Linked DNA regions of Homo sapiens: region 2 is reported to be linked to region 1. The links are microRNA targets in miRTarBase. Many come from high-throughput screens and were not tested one by one. Region 1 holds a microRNA gene; the other region holds the end of a gene's coding sequence.

Region 1 (5,406 bases):
TACTGATTCGTTATCTTTAGCCAAATGTAATATCTCTGGATTCCAGGGCGCCTTTTCTTAGGAGCAACCTCTCCGTGACTTCTTTTGTCCCTCCTTTCAGGTATGAATGCTGCTGTCAGGGCTGTGGTTCGAGTTGGTATCTTCACCGGTGCCCGTGTCTTCTTTGTCCATGAGGTTGGTTCTGTACTTTGTTCTTCATCATTCTTTCTCTGTCTTCTTCTAAATCTGCCTTCTATCCCCTTCCCACATTCTGTGTCCTTACCTCCCAGTTAGTTACATTGCTGTGTTTGATTTTCCTTGACTCCGTAGCTTCATGAGTCACTCTTTCCTACTTGACTCCAATAGTGATGGTGGGACCTGAGCATCTACAAACTGGGTCTTCATGTTGCCTGTTCAATTTAAAGGAAAAAGTAACTCTCAGTCCTCCTTTTATCTCCCTCAAAACAGAGAAAGAAATGGAAATGGGTAGTATTTACAGCAAATTTAGTATATCCAGAGGAAGAGCCCCAGGAGAAAAGAGACTTGCTGCATTTCTGTAGTTTGCATAACTTTCTGAGGTTCTCAAATCTTCTTTTGCACCCTTCTCCCAGTACCCTCTCATGCTTCACCCACTCTTCTTTTTATAAGGTCCACCTGCTTTCTTGTATCAGATTTTATAATCTTTTAGAGCAAGTCGCGTTTCTTTCCTTCCCTCCCACCAACTTCCCCTTCTCCTTTTCTCCATGGTTATCAAGACCATCTGTTATCATTGGCCCCCTAGGAAGCAGGTTGGAGGAGATAGGATGAGCCAAAAATAAGAATTAAGATTAACTATTAGGAAGGATATCCACATCCCAGTATTTCAAAAATGGGAGAAAGTAGAAGAGAGTATTGCAAAAGTTGATGCCTCCTTCTTTGGACTGTGTTAAATATGATAGTCTCACGAGCATCCAGGACTCACTAATGGGAGGAGGTGGCTTGACTCTCAGAGAATCTCTTCCCAGGGATCCTGTCTTAATCTTGGGAATTTATAGAGAAGCCTAACGGGCTGAACAGGTATAATGTGTCACACAGGGTTATCAAGGCCTGGTGGATGGTGGAGATCACATCAAGGAAGCCACCTGGGAGAGCGTTTCGATGATGCTTCAGCTGGTATGTTCCAGAGAACTCCCTGTCCCATATTTGCTCTGTCCTTGTTTCATCCCACTCTGTTTTGGGCTCATGGTCTCCTAAATTCCCTGTCATGTGGTTTCATGGGAAGGAATTCAGTGACAAGAGAGGGACCCTATTTGCCCTTTACTCTTAGCATTTGAAAATACCACCCTGGTTTCCTGGGGCAGGGAGAGGGTGGAGGAGTGATCACAGGATGCTTTGCTCTTTATGGAAAGGTCATAAACAAGACTATGGGGACTGACACATAAGCAGATCTTACTCTAGGGTCACAGGGAAGGTCTGGCCCTGAAAATAACCTTACCAGAGGACTGGAGCCAGAGCCAGAAGTGGAGCTGAAATCTGCCAGTCCTCATGTGATGGAGATGAGGTGACCTGAAACCAGACCACTTAAAGGACGAAGGAACTGAGACAGCCTTTCGGAGTCTCAAAAAAATCCTAAGAGTATCCTGAGGATTTCCACAGTCCTTTATGCTACTTGCTCCATGTTGTTTTAGGCTTCTCATGTGTATCCACTGTGGGCTAGCCCACAGTGAGTGAGAGAAATACAATCATTTGCTGGTTTACTGAAAATTTGTAAATTACATTTGTATCCCCCTTTTTTCAGCTCAGTTCCCTAAAAATCCATGGGCAAAAATTTAATATGCAGTGTCTAGTGAAGGCTCTACCTAGGTGCTAAGTAATGGTGCCTGCCATAAAGTGGTCTGAGAATGAGCCAGAATTCTCCACCAGTATCCCAAAGTCATGGCTGCCCAGGAGTACATATGATATGAAAACCTAAGTATACTTACCTCTCTCAGGTAAGTATACTTTCTCTCAGGGATAGAAAGCCTTAATTTCCCAGGGACTTATAGATACCTCTCTTGGGGTATCTATAAGGCTTTCTTTACCTAGAGCTATTTTTCCTGTGAATACCTGGATATTGCAGCTTCTGCTGCTAGCACCATGGATTGCAAGGAGCTAAGGGGAAAGGATTGGCAGTACCTGGGTACAGTTAGAAATCTCAGTGCAGAGAGAGGAAAAATACTACAAAACACATTGGGATGAACTCCTAATAATAATTTGGACACAATCCAGTAATGTCAGGCCATTAGGGAGAATTTCTAAAGACTGAAGTCACTGCTTCTAAGATGTGAAAGTTGGAGATTATTTGAGAAGCCAACATACATGTATGTATTCACTTGTTCTCTTTAGGATAGTCATGGATGACAAAGCCTTCAATGAAAGGAGTTCTTAGCAGTCTTCTCAGATGTGTAGCAAAATATGGGAATGACCCTATGATGCCTCAGCCAGCATCATTTCCCTTTCCTTTGGAAGGGACAGATCACTCTTAAGGATGTCAAGGAACTTTCTAGGGAGTCACACAGTTATGTTAGGCCATCACAGCATTGGAATAGGGGATATCTCAGCATGTTGAGCCCTGTCTCTGGGGAGCTGACTTCTACCTCTTCCAAAGGGAGGCACGGTGATTGGAAGTGCCCGGTGCAAGGACTTTCGGGAACGAGAAGGACGACTCCGAGCTGCCTACAACCTGGTGAAGCGTGGGATCACCAATCTCTGTGTCATTGGGGGTGATGGCAGCCTCACTGGGGCTGACACCTTCCGTTCTGAGTGGAGTGACTTGTTGAGTGACCTCCAGAAAGCAGGTAAGAGAGTTTTCACATCAGTATTGCTTATTTGTGTCGGTACGTGCACGCGTGTACACACACACATCGCCCCCGCCCTGCTTTTACCTCCCATTGGAGAAAAATGTTACCCAGACACAAATAGGCAGTCTTTGCCCTCCTTTTTCTGGTATTGTCTACAATTCCTTTTGGCTAGAGTTTCTCTCTCTCTAGATATCTCCTCTTTAGGCATGCCAGGTGCCTCACCCAGTGGCTCCTGGTTTGCTTCTCATTGTCAGGTAAGATCACAGATGAGGAGGCTACGAAGTCCAGCTACCTGAACATTGTGGGCCTGGTTGGGTCAATTGACAATGACTTCTGTGGCACCGATATGACCATTGGCACTGACTCTGCCCTGCATCGGATCATGGAAATTGTAGATGCCATCACTACCACTGCCCAGAGGTAAGGGGACTTGGGAGGTAGGCAGTGTAAGAAGATGGCAGCTAGGACAGGCTAAAGGGCTAGAAGCTCCTGAAGACTAAAGCGTTTGAGCTATGGTGACTATAATGGCCAGTTTTCTGGGGCTAGAACACTATTTTTAACGAAAAATTATCTAGAGCACTGAAATTGCACTGTTCCCTTAATGATATATGATTTGTCTTTTGCCACTGTCTGGCCCACTGTCCAAATATGCAGCTCTGAGGTCTTTCATATCATTGGGGTAAATGGTTATTCTTCAGACTGGGCAAATCTAGGGAGCCCAGACATGAGCTACGCTTTCCAACCATATCATAGAAAGTATAGGTGCTGCTATGACCACGACAGCTCAGAGATAAGGGGACCTGGGGGGAGGCAATGTAGGATGGGAGGATAGAAGGGTAACAGTTTACCCCAGGGTAATCCTAAAGGATTCCAGTTAGTCCAATTCTCCCTTCACTTCTTATCCTTTCCTTTCCTTCCCTTCCCTGACCCGGTTCCTCCCTGGAACAGAGCCTCTGTTTAGACACTTTTTACTGCTGTGTTTTCTCAGGCCTAGGAAGGATACCTTGTGGCTAAAGTATTTCCCCTAGGTCTTCCTGGTCTCAGGAAGCCTGCTAGAAGGCCTGGCAGCATACATGTATCTCCCAGAGAGGGTAATTGGCCTAGATGTGGGTGGTGGCTTGATCTTGGCCATAGGGTCACTTGGACTGTGTCATATGTCTATCTCTTGCAGCCACCAGAGGACATTTGTGTTAGAAGTAATGGGCCGCCACTGTGGGTAAGATCCTCATTCTGACCCATTTATTCCGTGGACCTAGCGATAGCCCTTTCCTTTTCCCCAGAGAGTCCAGTGAGGTCTCTCAGTAGCAGCAGATCTGGAGGTGCACATGCTCCTTGTGGTGTGGTTCCCTTTCCGGCCTCCATCCCCTCTGTTACATCCCCACACATGCATGTGTGTACGTGCTCAGGCACGTGCTTGGTGTAAAGAGTGGGTAGTGCTCTGAGGCTGGAAGCCACTGTGGCAGGTGAACATAAATGGAAGGTATCCGTTAGAGACAGAATCTCATTGAGGGGCCCCGGTGCTCTTACCCTTGCCCCACGAATAAAATGGAGGCTCTCCAGACCTTTTATCAACTATGAGGACTAGGAGAACTTGTTGGGTATGGGTGAGGCTATTTGTAGAGTACAACTTCTAGCAGGATGCTTCTGACTCTCATCTCAGATACCTGGCCCTTGTCACCTCTCTGTCCTGTGGGGCCGACTGGGTTTTTATTCCTGAATGTCCACCAGATGACGACTGGGAGGAACACCTTTGTCGCCGACTCAGCGAGGTACTTGCACTTTATTTTGCCCTTAAGAAATCCCTCACCCTGTTCCACTGATGATCTCTTTCCCACCCATCAGCTTCATTCCATGGACCATTTTACCCTTTGTTCTCAACCAGACAAGGACCCGTGGTTCTCGTCTCAACATCATCATTGTGGCTGAGGGTGCAATTGACAAGAATGGAAAACCAATCACCTCAGAAGACATCAAGAATGTTCGTATGAATGAAGCCAGAGAGGCCTTAGAATCCATAGCCCATTCCCTTCTGGCTTCTGAGTCTCCTGACATTGCTTCTCCCCTTGGTCCTTCTGCACATCTCTCCCTGGTTCCCTGCCCCTGATTGCCTCCCACAAAGAACCATTACAAGACAAGAGGCTGAGCTGTCCATGGTTTACCCAAGTCTCTGCTTGTTTTCTTCCTTTGACTCTGCGTAACCCTCTCTCTGTCCCTCTGTTGGTCCCTTCAGCTGGTGGTTAAGCGTCTGGGATATGACACCCGGGTTACTGTCTTGGGGCATGTGCAGAGGGGTGGGACGCCATCAGCCTTTGACAGAATTCTGGTAAGTCACTGGGCTGTGTGGCCCTCATGCCTTGAAACCCTCAACCTTGTAGTCCTGCCCCCTCAGGGCTGCACTTCACCAGACAGGGACTTACATCACTGGTCGCATTGCCTCTCCACCAGCCTTTGGGCTGCAGTGGCCACTGACCCATTCCCATACACTTGAGGGTTCTCTTCTGTTACAAAAATGGTGAGAGACTACGCCTTCCTAATGGTGAGGAACAATATCTTTTTGTTTTGTTTTGTTTCATATATTTTTAATACGAATTTTGAGATAATTGTAGAT
Region 2 (5,406 bases), not on the chromosome of region 1:
AGGTAATTACAGTTTAGTTACAGTTTAGTTCTGTTAAGTATTGTTAACATATGGGAGTGCTATGGAGCATAAGAAGTGAATGATTAACTGTGTGGAGAGTCTTAATGTTTTTGCCAGGGATAAAAGAAGGTGGAGCGCAGGGATCAGGAGGCTGAGAGGGAAGAGGCAGCAGAACAATTTGTGTAAAAGCATGTTTGGGGAAAGCTTAATATGGCAGGTGTATTTAAGAACTCTAGAGTTAGAGTGTAGCATGATAGTAGATGACAGTAAGTAGATATGGAACCAGGCTGTAAAAAAAGCCTTGTATAATATTCTGAGGAGTACAGACCTTCCAATTAAGCACGAGGAAACCATTGGTAGTTTTTAAGCAAGGATTGTAATATGATTACATTTGTCTGGAGTGGTTATTTTGTGTGGGGACAGAATACAAGGAGATGGGAATTTTAAAGTCTTTCTAATAGTCCAGGAGGAATCAAGGACAAGGGAATGGAGATGGAGACCTTTCTGATTTCTGGTGCTGCCTTCAGAGGTAATTGACCAAAAGTATGAAATGAAGACATTCTACAGGTTTTTAGATTTTCAGTTTTGTTCACCTGCTGCACCTATCTCACCCCCACCACATACACACATACTCCACACATGGCTATTTGTACTAGCTACCAATGATGCCTACATGCATTCCCTTATGCAGTAATCATTAATTGATCCCCTACTATGTGAGACCATTCTATTTTTTCTGATTCTAACTATGGTCTAACTTTGGCCTATGGGCCAAAATCAGCTCATTGCCTCTTTTTTATAAAGTTTTATTGAAACATACACATGTGGCTGGGCGCAGTGGCTCACACCTGTAATCCCAGCACTATGGGAAGCCGAGGATCACTGGAGGTCGGGAGTTTGAGATCATCCTGGCCAACATGGTGAAACCCCATCTCTACCAACAATACAAAAATTAGCCAGGTGTGGTGGCAGGCGCCTGTAGTCCCAGCTACTCGAGAGGCTGAGGCAGGAGAATCTCTTGAACCCGGAAGACAGAAGTTGCAGTGAGCCGAGACAGCACCACTGCATTCCAGCCTGGGTGACAGAGACTCTATCTCCAAAAAAAAAAAAGAAAAACATACACGTGCTCATTCATTTACGTATTCTCTGTGGCTGATTTCACTTTACAGTGGCAGAGTGAAAAGTAGCTCTAGTAGAAACCATGTGGCCTACAAGCCTGAAGTATTTACTCTGGACCTTTACAGAAAATGTTTGCCAATCCCAAACTAGTTAATTCTTACTAGAAGAAAGGAGGGAAGGGGTCTATAATAGTTTCTTAAGGACAGTTGATCTTTGGAGAAGTGGCCTTACTAGTAAATAACTAATTTTTTTTTTCAAATCTAGGGTTGTCCTTACTTTTAAGTGACTATGTTCCAAAAGAGGAAGGTAATATTAGGTACTATTAATCAGGGAACGCTGCTTCGGGAATGTGACTGTAAATTGAATGCTTGGTTGTTGGGAGTAGTAATGTTAAAATGATATGGGAGGTTAAAATATTGGCCTTGCTGATCTAGATGCAGAAGTATCTAGAACCACCTGGACAGCTGTACAGCTTTTTCATTTAACAAAAAGAAAAGAAAAAACTCAGAGCAATATAAAGACGAGATGTAGGTTTAAGGAAACTAGCAGGCTAATGTGGCTAAATTCCAGGCCTGTAGGCCGGGTAATCCTGTGACGAGAATATAAGGATACGTAGCTAGAGGCCGGCATGGTGGCTTGCGCCTGTAATCCCAGCAATTTGGGAGGCCGAGGCAGATCACTTGAGGTCAGGAGTTCGAGACCAGCCTGGGCAACGTGGTGAAACCCCCCCTCTACTAAAAACACAAAAATTAGCCGGGCATGGTGGCACATGCCTGTAATCCGCGCTACTCTGGAGACTGAGGTGGGAGAATTGCTTGAACCTGGGAAGCAGAGGTTGCAGTAAACCAAGGTCACACATGGCACTCCAGCCTGGGTGACAAAGTGAGACTCCATGTCAAAAAAAAAAAAGGATACATAGCTAGAGACCAAGATCTGCTCCAACATACTCCTACTTTAATAATGTTTTTTTGATGGTTGATATATTGAGTAATTGAAAGAATGATAGAAGATTTTATGAATTACATCAGTAGGGTTTTCATGTCTGGCTCATGAACTGATGAGTAGGTGGATGGAATATTGTTTTCACTTCTTTGTTTTAAATTTGTTTCTTTAGGATCTATAGCAGAAAAGCTTTCTAAGGCGAAATTGGGTGAGAGGTCTGTGTGTGTCTCCTCAGTTTTTAAAATCTTTCTTTCTTTCAGGTTATCCTACCTACAAAGAAAAAGTAAAGAAAAGGCCTGGAGGCCGCCCAGAAGTGATCTACAACTATGTCCAAAGACCCTTTATTCGAATGTCCTGGGAGAAGGAAGAAGGAAAGAGTCGGCATGTAGACTTTCAGTGTGTAAAGAGTAAATCTATCACCAATCTTGCAGCAGCTGCAGCAGACATTCCCCAGGACCAGCTGGTAGTCATGCATCCAACTCCACAAGTGGATGAGCTGGATATTCTCCCTATCCATCCCCCTTCTGGCAACAGTGACCTCGATCCTGATGCACAGAATCCAATGCTGTGATGCTGATCTTCCTTGAAACCATAGCATGCTACTCTTCACAGTGACGTTGTACTCTCCTCATTCTGCACTGCAAGGCCACTCTTCTTCATTGTGAGATGCACATAACAATGTTTAGGATATTGCAGTGTAGGCTTTTTTAAAGACCAAAGGTAGCTGAATGGTTTTTTTTTAAATGAGTACAACTCTAGCATTTTGAAGTTCCAGTTGTAAATGTATTTGTTTACCAGTAGGTTTGTGAAATTGGTTCTTTGTATGGGGGATGGTCCTTTTTCACACAGCTAGGTCTTTTCAGAAGTGGTGGAAATTGGCAGCTGGGGTACTTTCAGTTTGGACTGATATTCATCACACCTCAGATAAAATGCAGAGTAATATATAGTTGCACTTTATAAATGGTGGTTAAATGGAAATGTTCAAGCCATTTTATAGTTGTGATGCACAATATAATTTAAGTGCTTCTGTCAAAGTATTCCTCCAGTACAATTTGTATAGTTTGCTGCCCTTGATGAGCAAAAAGTATTTATCTTGGGCTTATCTGAATGATCAGGATGAGATTTAATGCCCATATCTTACCAGTTCAGTTATCTCCAGAGCCATTTCACCCTTTAGAGTGAGTCACATGCAGGGAGTGTGAATGTCAGAGGTGGTTTATTATCCAGTCTGCCTTACCCTTAATCTGTTCACAGATATTTATTTACTAATGCTTTTTTTTTCTTAAGAGTTATGGGATAGGAAAATGAAGTGTTTGCTCTTCATTTACTAAATGATTGTAAACTTGAGTTTTTCATCAAAATAAAATTCCATTGTTTTAATGTTTCTGACCAAATTTATAACCACATTGACCAGATTTTTAGTCTCATAATTTCCCATCTCGGTGGTGTAAGTATTATTAGAAATAGTAGCTCAAGGAACTTTTACTATATGTGTGATGAGGCATTTAAATTCCCTAATTATAAAATGTACTATAAATCAAAACAATATTTATTAGAGCTGAAAAGAGTATTTTCTAGTCCAACTTGATATGAAGGGCAAAATGACTTTACTAGGTCATATAGTCACCCTAAGTTTCAGAGCCAGTTTCTCATACTAGTTCAGTGCTTTTTCCATTATACCATGCTACTTTGCTTAGCAAATTATTTATGCAAATGCTATTCTAAATATTCTGTGGTCCAATTCAAGAAGGGATCAAATATTTAGGTGCTTTAGGACTGGGGTCACTTACTATATAACTGAAGTAGTATTAGAGAGGTGCAGCATTAGAGAAGCCAATTTGTTAAATATAATCTTGAATTTATAATTTCAGAGGATTCGATGTTTGTGGATAAGCAGTAACATCTTTGTTCTCACATAAATTAAAATTGCAACAATTTATAAATGAACTATTTTAACAACACAGCTAAGCTAGTAGCATGGGGAAATTATGCAAGCCCAGAATCGTTATGAAGGCCAGAAAAGCACCACAAATGCTACTGGCGTAGATCATCCTTGAACACCCACTGTAGAAACTTATAATCCAGCCCTGCAACACGTAGGATTTTTTTTCTAATTATTTGAAATGTGAACAGTATTTATAGAACAAGGGAAACATTTATTAAAAATATTTAACTGTCTAGTACATTATACTTTAACCCATATTTATAGTAAAGGATTCTTACAAGGAAGAATAAACGGCTTTATGATACAATTAGTATAAGAAATATCCACATGGGGGACTTCTTTGTAGTGTAAAAACACCATACATCTGAAATGACCATTTGCATATAAAAGCTACCAATGATGCTTCTGTGCACAATGATTAAAAAATTCAACACAAACAGAATCCAAAATATACAATTAATGCAAGCTATCCACAGCTAGCCCAATAATCAATGATGAGGAAACACTGGAGCAGGCTTAGTTCCACTTTGTCTGAAGTTACATATAGTAAGATTGACTTGTATCAATGGCTCTGAGATGGCTTTTATGAAGTCAGTACATAAAAGCTATTCTCTCCTTATCCAGTAAGCTTCACAGACTGTAAAACTCCACCAGTAATGCACTTTGATACTATAGCTGTTGCCAAAGCAACATGTAGTGTTTACAGCGGCCATGGCAAGTCACTAAAGTCAACAGGGCCACCCAGTCCAGCATCTGCTTCCAAGAGGCTCATGATGACAGCCATTGCTGCCTCATCATTACTGGGACTACTTGATCCTTGGTCGTTGTCAATCATGTCTATACCTATGTGGGGGTTCTCACCTGTGGGAGGAGATAAAGACTGGTCAGTGATTTCTTTTTTAAAGCATCTTCAGATTAAGTAAGCAATTCCTAAGCACATTTTTAATAAGAAAGTTACATTTAATGGTAGGGTGAGATGCTGCTTTTTGGGCTGCATGGCTATCTTTTTTTATATCGCTGTTTTTTAGAGGAAAGAACCAATTTTTTAAAAATACGTAAGAAATAAGTGGGGTTACGTTGTGAAGAGACAGCTCTAAGGAATCAAATGATCATTTTAGAAATAAGTACAAAGCGCTTAAAATTTAGTAAATGTTAAAAATATTTGAGTCAAGCTTATTTTAATAATCTGATGTAACCAGTTAAGAGGAGTTACAAAAAGAAAGGCAAATAGGAAGGGAGAGTTTAGGAAAAAAACAGATCTAGAAAGCCCAGGGGAGAAAAAGATGGATGTGATGGGAAAAGCAAACTCTTTTCACTTAATGACTTTTAATACCTTCTGATATGCTTACTAATCACCCTTCTAGGCATTATCTCTGAACCTTCATTAGCCTTCTCTCTCT

What was found. Region 1 holds the annotated microRNA hsa-miR-6505-3p (UGACUUCUACCUCUUCCAAAG, at 2,585-2,605, shown strand). A microRNA usually pairs through its seed, bases 2 to 8, with sites in the 3' UTR of a target mRNA and lowers its output. Matches are read on the target gene's strand: a 7mer-m8 pairs with bases 2 to 8, a 7mer-A1 pairs with bases 2 to 7 and ends in A, and an 8mer does both.
Region 2: the mRNA of BMAL1 is a reported target of hsa-miR-6505-3p. Seed matches in the 3' UTR shown: 7mer-m8 at 4,340-4,346.

What each region holds. Positions count from the first base shown.
Region 1 is chr12:48,130,263-48,135,668 of GRCh38, forward strand. MIR6505 (microRNA 6505) reads left to right here and starts at 2,535; the gene lies at 2,535-2,605. PFKM (phosphofructokinase, muscle) reads left to right here. Exons shown (of 23, transcript NM_000289.6): 3 at 101-174; 4 at 1,054-1,131; 5 at 2,606-2,795; 6 at 3,053-3,218; 7 at 3,970-4,014; 8 at 4,459-4,567; 9 at 4,681-4,776; 10 at 5,029-5,121.
Region 2 is chr11:13,386,057-13,391,462 of GRCh38, reverse strand. BMAL1 (basic helix-loop-helix ARNT like 1) reads right to left here. Exons shown (of 20, transcript NM_001297719.2): 20 at 4,197-4,867. The coding sequence ends at 4,707. It overlaps BTBD10 (BTB domain containing 10), which reads left to right. Exons shown (of 9, transcript NM_032320.7): 9 at 2,322-3,455. The coding sequence ends at 2,632. Among named protein-coding and RNA genes, the nearest start is that of BTBD10, 74 kb to the left of the region's middle.